Linked DNA regions of Homo sapiens: region 2 is reported to be linked to region 1. The links are microRNA targets in miRTarBase. Many come from high-throughput screens and were not tested one by one. Region 1 holds a microRNA gene; the other region holds the end of a gene's coding sequence.

Evidence for each region. The annotated mature microRNA hsa-miR-4458 reads AGAGGUAGGUGUGGAAGAA and lies in region 1 at 2,141-2,159, shown strand. An mRNA with a match to its seed (bases 2 to 7 or 8) in the 3' UTR can be bound and repressed. Matches are read on the target gene's strand: a 7mer-m8 pairs with bases 2 to 8, a 7mer-A1 pairs with bases 2 to 7 and ends in A, and an 8mer does both.
Region 2: miRTarBase lists RNFT1 as a target of hsa-miR-4458. The part of its 3' UTR that is shown has no 7-base or 8-base seed match.

The regions. Positions count from the first base shown.
Region 1 is chr5:8,458,793-8,462,052 of GRCh38, forward strand. It overlaps MIR4458 (microRNA 4458), which reads left to right and starts at 2,133; the gene lies at 2,133-2,207. MIR4458HG (MIR4458 host gene) reads left to right here. Exons shown (of 2, transcript NR_039989.1): 2 at 1,141-3,260.
Region 2 is chr17:59,950,460-59,953,459 of GRCh38, forward strand. RNFT1 (ring finger protein, transmembrane 1) reads right to left here. Exons shown (of 9, transcript NM_016125.4): 9 at 1,781-2,652. The coding sequence ends at 2,518. RPS6KB1 (ribosomal protein S6 kinase B1) reads left to right here. Exons shown (of 15, transcript NM_003161.4): 15 at 1-115. Among named protein-coding and RNA genes, the nearest start is that of RNFT1, 13 kb to the right of the region's middle.

The DNA.
Region 1 (3,260 bases):
ACTTGGGTTCTGTGATTAATTTGCAAAGTATTAGGATGAAATCAAGAAACCTGCAGTTTTAATTGAATTGACTTTGGTTTTGTTTCTCAAAAAGTGGGACAACAAAAATACCTACTTAAGACTACTGTTTCAGGCACTGTCTAATTGCATTCATCAGATCTTATTATATTCATTCCATGAGGAATCGAAGACCTATTCAGTCAAGCAGCAGCCCAAGGTTACACGTCTAATAAAGGGCACATTCCCAGATCAAGCCCATGTAGGCTGACTCTAGATTCTGATTTTGAACTGCTCTGTTTCTGAATTGGAGTTTAACTCCTCTGTTACCCCTAGATTAATGGTGAGTATTTTCTCTCACCCAAGTTAATTCCATTAACTCTAATCAGAACCCTAATTTAGCATATTTCCAGTACAGTAGTTGCGGATCCATCCTACTCTAGAGTTTTTGTGCTATGTGTTAACTGTCTTTTATAAATGAAGGGACGGCTTCCTCTGTAACATACGGGAGCATTGTATAATCTTTGAACAGGCAAAAGCATTCCAGAGAAAAGATAGATGAATTTCATATATTTTTATTAAAACAATTTTATTAAAACATAGATAAATACTGGATTATTTAAGCAAGTTGCAGTCTATGTAGGTTAACCACTAAGCTATGCTTCCTCTCTTTGCATGCGTGTGTGTGTATACGTGTGTTTTTCCTAAAGATACATCAAGGCTTAGTACTTTCACAATGAGTTAAGTCCTGCGCTGTGCCTTGAAAGATGAAGGGAGGGAGTTAGAGGCAAAGATGAATTAACAGGTTAACAGGATCCGGGTCCAAGTCCTTAGATGCCTATTAAAGAGTTCAGGCTTCACTCTGCGGGAAGTAGGAAGATTTTTGAAAGACTAAGTACTGGAAGGACATGATCAGGTTTGCAACTTAGAACTATCACTGTGGCTGCAGACCTAAGAGTAGACGAGAAGGGTGGGTAGAAAGGTTAGGAAACTACATTTTCCGAAGAAAAACATGGAAAGAACTGAAAGGGTGATCCTGGAGTCAGAGCCAGGTAGAGAGTTTAGGGATTTAAGGAGGATTTGGTAAGAGATTTATTGTGAATCCTACATCCTAAAATTTTAATGTTTTTTTTTCTTTTCTAGAGATGATAAATAGCCAAAGACGTCAATGGCACCCATGGACATAGTAAGCATAGTAGGAGCTGAAAAACTAGAAGCAATGACAATGTCAACTATTTTGAGCAAAAAGAAGCAGTGTCTTCGGAACATTTGATCATAAAACCAGAAATTAAAGGATGAGAAAAACATTTTTCTGAAGCTTATACTTTCACATTTCCTAGAGAGCATATTTGTGTGGATGGGGGTGGGTAAACACTCAACAAAAGTTTCTTTAAAAAGAAGAAACCATCCTGGTTTGATGTAATCAATGGTTGCCCACTGCTCCCTTCCTGTGCCTGTGACCCTTCCCAAACTGCCCTGTTGCTTGCAGGCTCGCCTGAGCTGAAAGGCAGCCCTCACATCCCGTCGGCACCTCCCTGGGGCCTTCTTTACACCCTGGAGAACTTCACAGGGAATCTGTGTCTGTAACACAAAGGCTTCCTGGTCCAGATGTAGATACTAAGGCTGACTGGTTATTTAAGTCCTGCGGACTTACTCTGCCAAAATTATTTAATCATGTAAAAATAATTTATAATTCTTATAAAGTATCCCCTTCATAATATAATGAATGTTGGTGCTATTACATTTAAGTGCACATGTACAGTATACAAGATTATTAATAATAATGTTTTCAAATAGTTATTGTCAAAGCTATTTTTCTTATGTTTATGAAAGTGCTTATAAAATTCATGTTTTATGAGGCTGGAGATGTATATTTTGTAATTTCATTCTGATATTTGTTAATATTCGCTTCCAATGCTGGTTTTGTTTGATGAGACTGACATTGCCTAATTTCAAGCTTTTTGAATGTGTATTCTTTCAGGGCAAGTATGAAATAACTAGTAAAAAATATACAAATATGCTTAACAATAAGTAGACTTTCTCACATTGATTACTTACAACAGCTTTATGTGGGGTGAATCAGATGCCTGTATTACAGAAGCATCTAATGCAAAGCAAAATAAAAACACTTGCATGAGCGCACAGAGGTAGGTGTGGAAGAAAGTGAAACACTATTTTAGGTTTTAGTTACACTCTGCTGTGGTGTGCTGCCTAGTATTTGCAGGTTAATGCAAATACTAGGGGTTATGAATTGTTTCTAAGTTTATTATTAAAAATAGCCTTGCTTCATTTCTTCCTAAAATGGAGACAAATATGTATAGTGTCTGTGTTACCAGTATGTGTAAGAGTAATATCTTAATGCGTGTAAAATGTTTATAGGAACCTGTATTTCAAAGAGCTATTTTTGCAAGTGACACTATCCTTTTAAGAAACTTTTTTATTCAAACTTTTTCCTCCATTTATAACTATTCTATTATTTCTTAATGTTCAGAACCCTTTTCATTATCTATAAGGTTAAATTTTAGGTAAGTAATGAGAAAATAATAATATGTGGAGAAGAAATGAGTGAGGAGTCGAGATGTGTGTCAATCAAGAATGAGTTTGTCAGCCCTTGTATTATGATTTTACTCGGGAGGGGATAATTATTGAAGGATGTAATGTAAGGGCAGTGATACTATATGGTATGTAAGACTGTTAAAATCACTGAGGTAAGCTATTACTTGAACTAAGCATAGAAATAGAGACAGATTTTTAATGCATTTAATTATCAAAATATCTAAATTAAAGATTTGATGTGGTTGTTCACTGGAAACAAATGGCAGACAAACAGAATATTTCTTGGAATCATAAATGACATCATCCTGTCTCCAACTTTCTGTGTAGCTTCTTTCTTTAGTTGGTCTTTGCTTAGATTTCCCTGTGTCAGAGACGACTTCCCTGGATATCAGTGACAGTTATTGATTGCTCATGCTATGAACTCCTCCCATTTCTCAGCCCTCTTGCAGTAGGTGGGGCCATGGTACTAGTTGTGGCTTATTGCTTAAAGACTTTAAGGCTCCATGTGTGACTTTCCAGCTCTGGTCCACTGCTACTGCGGCTCTGGCAGGACTAGGGAGGTGCCCCGTGTCTCAGATGGTGCAGCCTCCATCCAGCTGTGTCCCTGAATGACTAGAGCACAGCCACTGGTGACCTGTGGTGGACGTAGAATGTGGGTAAGAGATAAACTTATGCTACACCGCTGGGGTTCAGGGGCTAATTTGTTA
Region 2 (3,000 bases), not on the chromosome of region 1:
TAGGAAGGAATTAGTATACGTATCAGGTGTATAAATGGTTTAAATTTATTTTAACATGTCAGATGTGTTCAAGTTGTCATATAAATAAACTATGTATGTAAGGAATGGGTTAAAAGCTGTTCTGCTGAGAAACTGAAGCTATTTAAGTATATAACAAGTTTTAGTATTGATTTTTAAGTTAGATGTTACACATCTTTGATTTTCAAGTTATGTCAGATAGTAGATATGAATTGTTTACTTAAAAAAATACATGTAACAATCTACGTGAAAGCTAGCTTCATAAAAAACTCTAGGAAGACCTTCTTGTGCTAACAATCAACAATCTGTTCAGCTACACTTGGTCAGCTACATTTGATAATTTGATATGTATGCACAAAATAACGTAGTGAACAAATGTGTTTTAACTAATGTCTCAATATATCTAGTGTAAGCTGGGTATTTTGCATTAACCACTTCTTTTCTGTGAGGTAATTATACCACACTTGCCAAGGGGATTTCTCTACAGAAGCTCTCAAACTGATCTTACCTTGCTATACAACATAGTAGCCTATCAATACTGGTAAAACAATCTTTTAGAAGCCATGATCTGAATTCACAGAGTAAATGAGTTTCTGAATCTACATTACCTGTTTTTGAGGTGAAGGAATAGAGGGATGGAAGAAATGCTTCCAGTTCATCAGCATTTTTATTGGATGGCATAGCTCCATTAGATTTTCTCCCTTTTCAATTTATAGGTAAACTGCATTCCAAAAAAAAACCCCACCATGCACCTCCTTGGTTATGTAATCACATTCATTAAGAAACAGTGCTGTCTGAATAGTTACAGAGTAAGCAAATGTATTAAATAGGTATTCTAATAGGGCTGAAGTAAAATGCTATTCTTGTATTTGAACAGGAAGTCATCTTGGCTATCCTTCACAGCCGAATTGTAATCCCACATTGCTTTTCTCACCCATCCTCTGCCGTATACCTAAATAATACAACTATTAGCATCACCACAAAGCCATTTAAATAATATTTGTAGTGGGTCTCAAAGTAGATAACAGAGTAAAATATACTGTAATTGAATATAGTTGTACTTACAACCTGGTAGTATTTACCTGGAGAGAAAAAAATGGTACAGGCTTCCTAATGTTTGTTTGTCAATTTGGATGGCTGTACAGTCATGGAAGTGCCTTCTATAACCAGTTGGTCAGTTTGCTAAACTAAACAATTCATTTGCTAGTTTAGCTTTTGTCTTATCAGTACAGCAAATCTGTTTTCTACCTCTGCTTCCTAAGTTCTTTCTACCACCTTTTCCTCGACTACAAACTGATAGATGTACTCTAAACTTGGATATAAGCACTAGCAGCCCTTCAGACATGTTTTAGATTTCAGATTCCTCCTTAGAGGTAACAAGGGGAGAAAGTGCTTCATTCTCTTTTCTAGCACCCTGCACAAATACCTAGAGGCGAACAAACCACACTATCAAAACCTCATGACCACCTCTCAGTGCGAGCTTCAATCTTCCAATTGATGGTGATTCAAGCATAAAATTCCAAAACTTTTATGGAGAAGACTAATTATAAGGGCAATTTTTTATAAGATTTTAGGGCATCTGTCTTGAAACTTTTTTCTTTTAAATAGAGATGGGATGTTGCCCAGGCTGGTCTTGAACTCCTGGGTTCAAGCAGTCCTCCTGCCTCTGCCTCCCAAAGTGCTGGGATTACAGGTGTGAGCCACCATGCCTGGCCATTTGTCTTGTTTTCTATACTATTCAAATCATCAAGTAAGCCAGCTGTTTATAATCCACATGAATTATTTTAATAGTTACTTCGAGATACTCCATGGTACTATACAAAAAGCATGATCATGAACATTAAAGCTGATGGCAGGAAGAATTTATGACGTCCAGAGACAAAATGAATTTAAATCATTTATTTTCACTTATTACTAATCTTACTACAGAGAATAATACAATACTATAATGTATCATCCTCAGTAAATTAATCTTCACTTAGAAAATGTTACTGATAAAATACAACATTTAGAATTTTCATTTAAAAATACAAATTTTATGAAAATATTAAGAATTTTTAGGATGGGAATTATAAAAGTCAATGCTGAACAAAATTCTACTTTTAGATAGTATGTATCTTAAAATATTATGAAAAATATTCTTTATTCTGAAAACAATGTCAGGAAAGAATACCTGAGTTCTCTAAAACCACTAGTTCTAATTTCAAATTGCTGTTTTGGTAACATAAAGAAAACACATTTACAATTTAACACTGCAGTTACCTGTCAAATAATTAGAATAGAATAAATGTTGCATATACATTAGGTTGAACATTATATATATTTTAAAACACAGGGTGGTTTCATTTAATCTTTTGGTGAATTGGATCATAAGTCCTACATTCTAAAACCATCTGGAAACATTTTTCTGGTAGCCCTGAAAATCCATTCTGATGCCTTATCAGTAGTCATTATGACCAAATGACATTAGTATTTTGTGGCCTTGATAGTTTATACAACTTAATATATTTGAAGGTGTGATGAAGTGGCTCCATCCTTCCATTTGTTTATATGGTCTGAAATCACAGTTCTGCAGAGTGGACATGTTTTCTCTCTGTTAAACCATAAGGTCATGCACTCTTCACAAAATATATGCTGTAATGGAATTAAGAATTAGATTTGATATTTGATAATCATTTTAAATCCATCACATTGTAGGGAATGAAAGGGATTCTTTTTTTTTTTTTTTTGAGATGGAGACTGAAGTCTTGCTCTGTCACCCAGGCCGGAGTGCAATGGCACCATCTCGGCTCACTGCAACCTCCGCCCCCGACTGGTTCAAGTGATTCTCCTGCCTCAGCCTCCCAAGTTGCCGGGATTACAGGTGACCACCACCACCATGCCCAGCTAGTTTTTTTATTTTTAGTAGAGACAGGGTTTCACCATGTTGGTCAGGCTGGTCTTGAACTCCTGACCTCAGGTGATCCACCCACCTCAGCCTCC